Regions from separate parts of the Homo sapiens genome. Here region 2 is linked to region 1. Evidence: fine-mapped expression QTL. A gene starts in region 1. The other region holds a variant in brackets. All regions are shown on one strand. Distances are from middle to middle.

The links. PIP is the estimated chance that this variant, and not a neighbour inherited with it, causes the effect. A credible set is the group of variants that fine-mapping cannot tell apart.
Region 2: its variant is the best candidate, but not a certain one, in a credible set for the expression of BOK in subcutaneous fat (TwinsUK, PIP 0.70).

The regions. Positions count from the first base shown.
Region 1 is chr2:241,556,228-241,561,601 of GRCh38, forward strand. BOK (BCL2 family apoptosis regulator BOK) reads left to right here and starts at 2,518. Exons shown (of 5, transcript NM_032515.5): 1 at 2,518-2,766; 2 at 3,228-3,476. The coding sequence starts at 3,257. BOK-AS1 (BOK antisense RNA 1) reads right to left here and starts at 2,916. Exons shown (of 2, transcript NR_033346.1): 1 at 2,550-2,916. RefSeq lists silencers at 3,181-3,260, 3,291-3,360, 3,411-3,540.
Region 2 is chr2:241,527,705-241,533,078 of GRCh38, forward strand. No RefSeq gene overlaps it. Among named protein-coding and RNA genes, the nearest start is that of STK25, 22 kb to the left of the region's middle. The variant C/T (reference allele first, on the strand shown) is at 2,692.

The sequences.
Region 1 (5,374 bases):
CAGCTTTTCTGAAAAAGCAGCTAACAATGACTGAGCACTTACTACATGACATGGATTAAGAATTCAGTCCTCCCAGGCTGGGCGCTGTGGCTTACGCCTATAATCCCAGAACTTTGTGATGCCAAGGCAGGTAGATCACGAGGTCAAGAGATCGAGACCATCCTGGCCAACATGGTGAAACCCCCTCTCTACCAAAAATACAAACAATTAGCCGGGCGTGGTGTCAGGTGCCTGTAGTCCCAGCTACTCGGGAGGCTGAGGCAGGAGAATCGCTGGAGCCCAGGAGGCGGGGTTGCAGTGAGCCGAGTTTACGCCATTGCACTCCAGCCTGGCAACAGAGCGAGACTCCGTCTCAAAAAAAAAAAAAAAAAAAAAGAATTCAGTCCTCTCAACAATCCTAGGAGGTAGGTATTATTATTCTTCCTACTTCCCAGACAGGAAAGTCATAGCAGATAGAAGTTCCATAGCTTTCCTAGCTTCTGGTAATGTTCCTGACAGGTTTCGGTATTAAAATTACATTGACCTCATAAAATGAGTTGGGAAATACTCCCTCATTTTTAGTCTCTGTGCAGGTTTGTATGAGACTGGTGGTATTTTTTTAACTGTTGAGAAGAATTTCTCAATGAAACCATCTGAACCTAGAATTTTCTTTGTGGGAAGATTTTAAATTACAGATTCAATGCATTTAATTGGTGTAGGACTATCCAGATTTTCTATTTCTTTTAGTGTCAGTTTTGGTAAGTTGTGTATCATCTAAAATTTCAAATGCACTGTCAAAAAGTCCTCCATACTATCTTTTTATCCCTTTAATGCTTGTAGTATCTACAGTGATGTCCTCTTTTTCATTCTTGATAGTGAAATTTGTGTTATCTTTTTTCTTACTCAATCTTTCTGGGGATTTATCAGTTCTATTAATCTCTTCAAAGAACCAATTTTTGGCTTTGTTGATTTTCTCTATTTTTTGCTTTATTCCATTAATTTCTGCTCTTATTTTTATTATTTCCTTTCATCTTTAGTTTTATTGTTCTTTTCTAGCTTCTTGAGTGGAAGCTTAGAGCAGTAATTTTATTTTTCTTTTTCCTTTTTTTTTTTTTTTTTTGAGATGGAATCACACTCTGTTGTCCAGGCTGGAGTGCAGGTGGGATGATCTCTGCTCACTGCAACCTTCGCCTCCCAGGTTCAAGCAATTCTCCTGCCTCAGCCTCCTTAGTAGCTGGGATTACAGACACCTGCCACCACACCCAACTCATTTTTTGTATCTCTAGTAGAGACGGGGTTTTCACCATTTTGACCCGGCTGGTCTCAAACTCCTGAGCTCAGGTGATCTGCCCACCTAGGCCTCCCAAAATGCTGGGATTACAGGTCTGAGTCATTTCACCTGGCCTAATTTTCAATCCTTCTTCTAAAGCTATCAAATTTCCTCTAAGCAGTGTTTTAGTTGCACTGTACAGCATTTGATATGTCTTATTTTTCACTGTTCTTGTCAACATATTTTAATCTTCCACTGTGATTATTGACCCATTGATTATTTAGAAGTGTGACATGTAATTTCCAAGCATTTGCAGATTTTCCAGTAATTTTTCTGTTATTGACTTTTAATTCAGAGAGGACACACTGTAAGATTTCAATCCGTTGAGATTTGCTGAGACTTGTATAAGGTCCATGATATGGTCTATTTCGATAAACATCCTATGTGCACATGGGAAGAATAAGTATTTTATAGTGTTGTACACACGTGAATTAGGCCAAGTTGGTTAATCCTATTGTTCAAACTGTGTGAGGTTGATTCAAGGATAAAGAAATAAACCAGTGGGATAGAGTTCCGAGACACACACACACACACACACACACTCTTCAGCTGATTTATGTTGAGATGTTGGGGACTCCTCCAATTCGGTGGAAAAAAAATGATGCTTTTCAATAAATGATGCCAGGTCAATTGGATATCTACACGAAAAAAAATGAGCTCTAGCCCCGTACCACACCATTCACAATAATTAATATGTAATCAATCATAGATCTAAATATGAGCCCTAAAACAAGCTTCTAAAAGGAAATACAGGAGGATATCCCAATAAAAAGGTACTAACCATAAAGAAAATATTGATAAATTGGACATCACTAAGAGTAACTCCTGTTCATCCAAAGCAAAAGTAAACCACAAAATAGAGGAAGATATTTGCAATAACTTCAATAAATGCGAATCCAATAATCCATCTACAATACAAAGGGCATGCGTCCGGACCAAGAACACGTCTCCAGACTCTGGAAAGAACCTCTACGAACGAAGAAGACAACCCAATTTTCAAATGGACCCCGGGGAACACCCAGGCGGCTGGGGCTGGCTCTAGGTCCCCACTGCTCTGCCTTGCGGGGGCCGCTCCGGCCTGGTCGCCTTCTCCGGGCGCATCCAGGGAACTCGCTCGGTCCTCCTTAAGCGGGGAAGCTCGGAAAGCGTCTCCCCGACTCCGCCCCCAGGGTTGCCTTTCCCTTAGAAGGCCAAGCCCCAAGCCCAGCCTCTCGCCAGCTGGGAGTCGCGCGCTGCCCACCTCGCTGCCCAGGCCCCCGACGCCGCGGCAGGAGCCCCCCAAGAGCGCGGGAAGCCCCGTGGACCTGGCGCTCCCGGCTCGGGCGTGGACGGGGCGGGCGCCGGGGCGGGGCGCGCGTCCTCGCGGGTCTGAATGGAAGGGTCGAGGTCGTCGTCGGCGGCGAGCAGATCCTGAAGCCAGAACTCCACCCCGGCGCCCGCGCCATGCGGCGGGAGAGGTGAGCGCGGCGGGCGTGGCGTCCGTGCCGGGGTGCCCGGGGTGCCACGGGAACGGCGAGGCCGGGGACACGCGCGCAGGACGCCAGCGGCGGAGGTGGGCGGCCCCGGGCCGGGGCGGGGAGGGCCGGGTCCTGGCAGTCGCCGTGGGGGACGCGCTGGGCTGTGCCCTCCGCCCCCGCCGCCCACGCACTCGTCTTCGAGGGCGGGCCCGGCGGCCCCGGAGCAAACCGCCGTCTCCCCGCGGCCCCACCGGTCCCTGGCAGCCTCGGGGAATGTCTGTAGCTGAATTCGGGCTCTGAAAGAAGGTGGCGCTGGGTTTTTAAAGATTTGGGGCACAAAAAACGAGAGCGGACCCGGCGCCGGCTACGGCCCTTCCCGAGGGCCACGCCCAGCCCGGCGCCCCGCGCGCCCCGTTCCCCGCGCCGCCTCCCTCCACCCGGCTGAGCGCTTGTGCCCGCAGGTGCGGCGCCCCCCACCCGCGTCGCCGCCATGGAGGTGCTGCGGCGCTCCTCGGTCTTCGCCGCCGAGATCATGGACGCCTTTGACCGCTCGCCCACAGACAAGGAGCTGGTGGCCCAGGCCAAGGCGCTGGGCCGGGAGTACGTGCACGCGCGGCTGCTGCGCGCCGGCCTCTCCTGGAGCGCGCCCGAGCGTGCCGCGCCGGTCCCGGGACGCCTGGCTGAGGTGTGCGCGGTGCTGCTGCGCCTGGGTGAGTGCGCCCTGGTGGGATCCCCAGCTGCGCCTCCTCCCCTGCTGGGCCGCAGCCTCCCTCCGAGGCCGAGATGGGGGTCCGGCCCAGGGGCGCCCACCCCCTGCCTGGGACGGCCAGGCGCTCGGGACAGGGCCACCCAGGCGGGTGCTCCCGGATCTGCCCTCTCAGGCCTCCCACGCCACAGGCCCCCCCATCAGCTGCCTGCTCAGCCCAGATTTCAGTCATGCTGGCCATAAACAATAGAAAGCTCCAGAAAGAATAATCTATTAGTGGGTGGCTAAGCTTCCACAGTGACCCTTGTTCTCAGCTGGGCACAGAAACCCTTTGTAGGAGCACGTGTCCCGATGTTTATTTTGGAAAACAGATTCTTGCTGTTACTGGCCGAGATCCCGCCCGCTGCCCTCTGGATTCCGAGGCCTCCGAGGCCCCCCCATTGGAAACTGCGCCCACCGGGCTGGGTAGCCAAAACCTCAGTATTCGTTGGTGCTGTGAGGACATCTGGGGGTGCTCGGTTCTGGGGTCACACACGGTCCACTGGCTGCCCCCACCGTCTCCAAGGTCTGGACCCAAGAGGGAGGGACCAGCCCCACTGTGACTGTCCAGTCCCCTCACCACAGCTGGGCTGTGGCCGTCACCTGGGAATGTTTATGTGATGCCCGAAGAGGGCACATGGGGCGCCTGTGGCTGAGCCCGGGAAGGGGAGGTGACAGCATAGGTGAAACTGAATCGGTGGCTCTCCAGGCAGGGGGTTGGAGTCGGAGGGCACGACCCCGTGAGGGGACACGCTGCCTCCTCTCAGGCTGGCGCTGGCATGGGCTCTAGGTGGCCCCTGCCCTTACGTGGTGGGCTGGGCCCAGAGAGCAAAGCTGTGTAGACCTGGCCTGCCCAGGAGTGTGTGTGGGGTGCAGACAGAATCCATGGGGACCAGCACAGAGCCTCCAGGAGGAGGTGGAGTCCCATCTGAGAAGTTCAGAAGGAGGGAGAGGTCTCTGGGTGGGAGCTAGGGGGTTGGTGGGGCTCCATGAGATCCGCCGCCTGCTGCTGCCTCTAGTCGGGCTCTGAGAATGACCCTAGGGGATCCTTTTAGTGGCCTTCTGAAAAGATGATGCCAGACCCCTGGAATGGCTGGGAAGAAGTCCCAGATGTCTAGGGGGACCCCAGAGGGACACAGCTCAGACCTGCATCTGCCCTCACGGCTGCTCAGGGTCAGTCCCTTGAGGCCAGCGCTGTCTCCCTGCCCTTGGGCAGTGCAGACAGGAAGAAGCCCGGGTTGTGTCCCCACCTTCAGTCTGGGGCCAGCCTGCAGCAGCCCCGGAGATCTGTGTTTGGGAGCTGCCGGGTCAGTCCTGGGAATTTCCATGTCGTCCCCCGCCCCCAGCCAGCCTCTCATGGGCTCTGCTCTGCTTCCAGATCTTAATTAATGAGATACAGAGCAGCCTTTATCAGCTGGGATGGTCCGGTCAGCAGCATTACCCTGTTTGCTTTGGCTGGAGAACTGGCCGGGCTGCGGACTCCCAATCCCAGGGCCCTGTGGCATTCTCGGCACCATCTGCCCCGTGCCTGTGCGCTGCTGCTGCCAAGGGTGCCACAGGCAGCACTGGGGCGGTGGGCCTGTAGGGGCCATCCTCGGCTGCCAGGGGCAGGGCTGATGCAGTGCCACCTCCAAGCACATCCCCTTGGCAGCAAGAGCCCAGGTGGGAGCGTGGCAGTGAGGGTGGCCCAGGACAGCGGCCCAGCCAGCCCAGGTGGGAGCGTGGCAGTGCGGGTGGCCCAGGACAGGGGCCCAGCCAGCCCAGGTGGGAGCGTGGCAGTGCGGGTGGCCCAGGACAGCGGCCCAGCCAGCCCAGGTGGGAGCGTGGCAGTGCGGGTGGCCCAGGACAGGGGCCCAGCCAGCC
Region 2 (5,374 bases), 29 kb before region 1:
TCCTGACCTCAGGTGATCCACCCACCTCGGCCTCCCAGAGTGCTGGGATTACAGGCCCAGCCTCTTATTTTTTAAATTAGAGATAAGGTCTCACTATGTTGCTCAGGTTGGTCTCAAACTCCTGGACTCAAGCAATACTCCTGCCTTGGCCTCCCAAAGTGCTGGGATTACAGGCATGAGACACTGCACCCGGCCCCTTTAAAGAGATATTTGTATTCCATGTTCATAGCAGCATTATGCGCAATAGCCAAGAGGTGGGGAAAAACCCGAAGTCCATCAACGAATGGATATATAAAATGTGGCCTATCCATGCACTGGAATATTATTAGCCTTAAAAGGACAGAATTCCTGACCACAACATGGATAAACCGAAAGGACTTTATGCTCAGTGAAATAAGCCAGTCACAAAGGGACAAATGCTGCATGATTGATTCCTTTTATATGAGGAAATCTAGTCAAATTCATAGAAACAAAAAGCAGAAAGGTGGTTGCGAGGGGCTGGGAGGGGGCTGGGAAGCTGTTCTTTAATGGATAAAGGGTTTCAGTTCTGAAAGATGAAAAGACTTCTGGAGACTGGTTGCGCAACAATGTAAACATAACGCCATTGAACTGTACAAAAATGGTTAAGATGGTAACATTTATGTTATGTGTACTTTACCACAGTTAAATATAATAGGCTGGGCCGGGTGGCTCACACCTGTAATCCCAGCACTTTGGGAGGCAAAGGTGGGCAGATCACTTGAGGACAGGAGTTCGAGACCAGCCTGGCCAACATGGTGAAACCCCATCTCTACTAAAAACACAAAAATTAGCTGGACATGGTGGCACACGCCTGTAATCCCAGCTACTAGGGAGGCTGAGGCAGGAGAATCTCTTGAGCCTGAGAGGTGGAGGTTGTGGTGAGCAGTCATTCCAGTCTGGGCAACAGAATGAGATACTGTCTCAAAAAACAAATAAACAAACAAAAAGCCGGGCATGGTGGCACAAGCCTGTGGTCCTAGCTACTTGGGAGGCTGAGGCAGGTGAAATCGCTCAAACCCGGGAGGCAGACGTTGCAGTGAGCTGAGATGGCACCACTCCACTCCAGCCTGGGTGATAAAGCAAGACTCCATCTCAAAATAAATAAATACATACGTACAATATAATATAATGTAATATAATTAATAATGCTCAGATGCATGCTACAGCATAGATGAACCTTGGAAACATGCTGAGTGAAATAAGCCAAACACAAAAGGCCAAACATTGTGCGATTCCACTTATACTAGCAGCAGGAATAGGCAAGTTCACAGCAACAGAAAGTGGAATCAAAGTTACGTGGGGAGGGGACCAGCAGATGCTGCTGAATGAGTACAGAGCTTCTGTTTGGGGTGATGAAAAAGTTCGGGAACTAGATAGTGGTGATAGTGACACAACATTGTGAATTTACTTAACGCCACTGTACACTTAAAAATGGTTAACGTAGGTTGGGTGTGGTGGCACGCGGGTGAGCGGAGATCGCACCACTGCAAACTGTAATTACACCTGTAATCCCAGCACTTTGGGAGGCTGAGGCAGGCAGATCACGAGATCAGGAGTTCGAGACCAGCCTGGCCAACAAGGTGAAACCTCATCTCTACTAAAAATACAAAAATTAACTGGGTGTGGTGGCACGTGGGTGAGCGGAGATGGCACCACTGCAATCCAGCCTGGGCGACAGAGCAAGACTCCGTCTCAAAAACAATGGTTAACATGGTACATTTTACATTATGTATATTTTACCATAAAAAAGTAGTGATAAATTGGACTTTATGAACATTTTTAAGTTTTGTTTTGAGAAAGACACTGTTAAGACAAAAGACAAACTAGTCCAGGTGCAGTGGCTCACGCCTGTAACCCTAGCACTTTGGGAGGCTGAGGCAGGCGGATCACTTGAGATCAGGAGTTCGAGACCAGCCTGGCCAACATGATAAAACCCCATCTCTACTAAAAAAAACAAAAATTAGCTAGGCATGGTGGCGGGCACCTGTAGTCTCAGCTACTTGGGAGGCTGAGGCAGGAGAATCAGTTGAACCTGGGAGGCAGAGGTTGCAGTGAGCTGAGATTGTGCCACTGCACTCCAGCCTGGGTGACAGAGTGAGACTCTGTCTCAAAAAAACTAAAATTAACTAAAGACTGGGAGAAAAAAAATGACACGTCACATATCCATCAAAGGATATGTCTCAAAAATGTATAAAGAACTCCCAAAGCTCAACAGTAAGAAAATCAAGGCCAGGCATGATGGCTCACGCCTGTAGTCCCAGCAGTTTGGGAGGCCAAGGCAGGTGGATCACCTGAGGTCAGGAGTTCAAGACCAGCCTGGCCAACATGGTGAAACCCTGTCTCTACTAAAAATACAAAAATTAGCCAGGTGTGGTGGCGTGTGCCTGTAATCCCAGCTACTCAGGGGGCTGAGACAGGAGAATTGCTTGAACCCGGGAGGCAGAGGTTGCAGTGAGCCGAGATTGAGCCACTGCACTCCAGCCTGGGTGATACAAACGAGACTCCGTCTCAAAGAAAAAAAAAAAAAAAAAACAACCAACAACCCAATAAGAAAAAAATTGAGAAGAGATTGGAATAGACACTCCATCAAAGGAGGCCTACAAGTGGCTAAGAGACACATGAACAGCTGCTCAACACCTTTAGCCCCCAGGGAAACGCAAACTAAGACCA[C/T]GATGAGATCCCAACTACACAACAATTAGAATGGCTAAAATTTAACAAACCACTGATAATACCAAGTGTTGACAAGTATATAAGTCAGGGTTCTCCATAGAAACTGACCAACAGGAGATATATCTGTATCTATCTATGTATCTGTCTCTCTGTATCTATATCTATATGGGGTGGAGACAGAGAGAGAGAGAGATTTATTATAGGAATTGACTCATCCAAACGGAGGCTGAGAAGTCCCACAGTGTTGTCTGCAAGCTGGCACACCAGGAAAGCCAGCAGTCTGACCCAGTCCAGGTCCGAAGGCCCAGGAACCGGTGGGCTGATGCTGCGGGCAGGAGAAGATGGAGGTCCCAGCTCGGAGAGAAAATTCACCCTCCCTTGCCTTTTTGTTCTACCCGAGCCCTGAGTGGATTGGATGCTGGCTGCCTGCATGGTGAGGGCAGATCCAGTTTACTAAGTAGGAGGCTCAAATGCTCATCTCCTCCAGAAACCCCTTCACAGACACCCTCAGAAACAGTGTCTCCCCAGCATCCAGGCATCCCTCAGCCCAGTCGAGCTGACGTAAAATTAACCATCAAAGAGAAAGGTGACCCATGTCCTAGTTTGTCCAGGAGTTTCCTGATTTTTGCATGGAAAGTCTCAAATCCCAGGAAACTCCTCAGACCCGGACAAAGTGCAGTGATTGGTCACTCTGGGCGAGCACGGGCAGCATCTGGAGCTCACACGTTGGGACAGTGGCCATGCGAGATAGTGTGGCCACTCTGGACAACAGCCAGGCAGTTACCTACAAACTGAATATTGAGCATTCTCACTACCAGGTGTTTATCCTGGAGAAACGGAAACCTGTCCTCACACGAAAACCCATACATAAATGTCTAGAGCATGACTGCTTGTGACAGCCAGAACCTGGAAATGACACAGACGTCCTTCAAGATCTGATCAAGTGAGCAGCGGCCAGGCTGCGGGGCACGCATGCAGCAGATCACGCTCCCGAGTGGAAAGGGTGAGCCTTGGAGGCACGTTGGAGAGAAAGAAGCCAGCCTCAAACATTACATACTGTAGGATTCCATTTACTTATTATTATGTATGATTAGTTTTTTGAGACAGGGTCTCACTGTGTTGCCCAGGCTGATCTCCAGCTCCTGGACTGGAGTGATCCTCCCGCCTCAGCCTCCAGAGTGGCTGGGATTACAGGCTCTAGCCACCACATCTGGCTATGATTCCATTTGTCCAATGTTGTCAAAAGGACACAAGCCATGGAGAAGTAACCGGCGGCTTCCAGGGGTCAGGAAGCCTGGTCCTGCAGAGGAGCGCCATGAGGGGCTTTCTGGGGTGATGGGATCACGCTGCGTGTGGATGGTGTGTGCAGAGGGGAGCATCGCACAAACCCATACAGGCAGGAACATTGCTAGAACTCCACACTAAAAAAGTCCGTTCTGCTGTACGTTAATTTTGTTTTATTTTATTTATTTTTGAGACGGAGTCTCACTCTGAAGCCCAGGATGGAGCACAGTGGCATGCTCTTGGCTCACTGCAGCCTCCATCTCCCAGGTTCAAGCAGTTCTGCCTCAGCCTCCCGAGTAGCTGGGATTACAGGCATGCACCATCATACTCGCTAATTTTTATATTTTTAGTAGAGATGGGGTCTCACCATGTTGGCCAGGCTGATCTCAAACTCCTGACCTCAAATGATGCGCCCTCCTCAGCCTTCCAAAATGCTGGGATTACAGGCGTGAGCCACCATGCCCGGCCCTGTATGTTAATTTTTAAATGAAAGCTTTTAAATTAATAATTCCTAAATGTCATCCCATATGGAGTCAGTGTCCAGATTTCCTATCTGTACATAGGATTTCCCAAGAGCAACTGCATACCATTGGTTCACACTTCCATCCCTCCACACCTGTTTCCTTGTCTCTTAACTCTCTTTTTGCCCCTGCAACGGAGCAGCGGAGGATATCGAGCCTCCAGTCTGTGGAGGCCACAAACTGGCCTTTGGACCCGGTGCCACCTCCCTGTTCCTCAGCGCCCTTCTCCTGCGCTTGGCAGTAGGTGGCAAGGCTCGTGGGCTTCTTGGCTTCTGTGGGAAGCCCACCTCCTCTCCCGCAAGCCCAGGTGGTCTTTATCAGACTGCACACTCCCTCAAGTTGGGGTACAGTGGTGTGATGGTGGCACATCTTCCTGGAAAGTCCCATACCCCAGGGTGTCTAAGGACACCCCACCAGGCCCCCAGCCCCGTCTCCTGCAGAAGCTGCAGCTTGGCCTTGGGGAGGGGCTGGAGGAGGGCAAAGCCCCCAGGATGGGTGAGCACCACCCTCCAACCAGGGGCCACGGAAACGGAGGGAAGAGGAGATGTGGAGACAACAAGCAGGGCTGCCTCGCCCGGGGGAGCTGAGGGCCCAGAGCCAGCTGACCCACCACGCCAAAGCAAGTTCAGCCTCAGTCCCACCGGAGTGCCACGACTGGGCAAGCCACCCCTCCAGTACAAACCCCCAAGTCAGAGGGGCACGGCCGCAGGGTGGCAGCAGCTCTGTCACTGCCCTGGGCTGCACATTTGGCTGTAGGCCTCACGGATGAGGACCTTGCCCTTTTGCAGACCTCCAGGTGTGACTCCAGCCAGGGCCCCGTGACGGAGCCTCCAATGGGTCCCACCGGTCCGTCCGCTCAGCAGCTGCTTCTGGAAGGC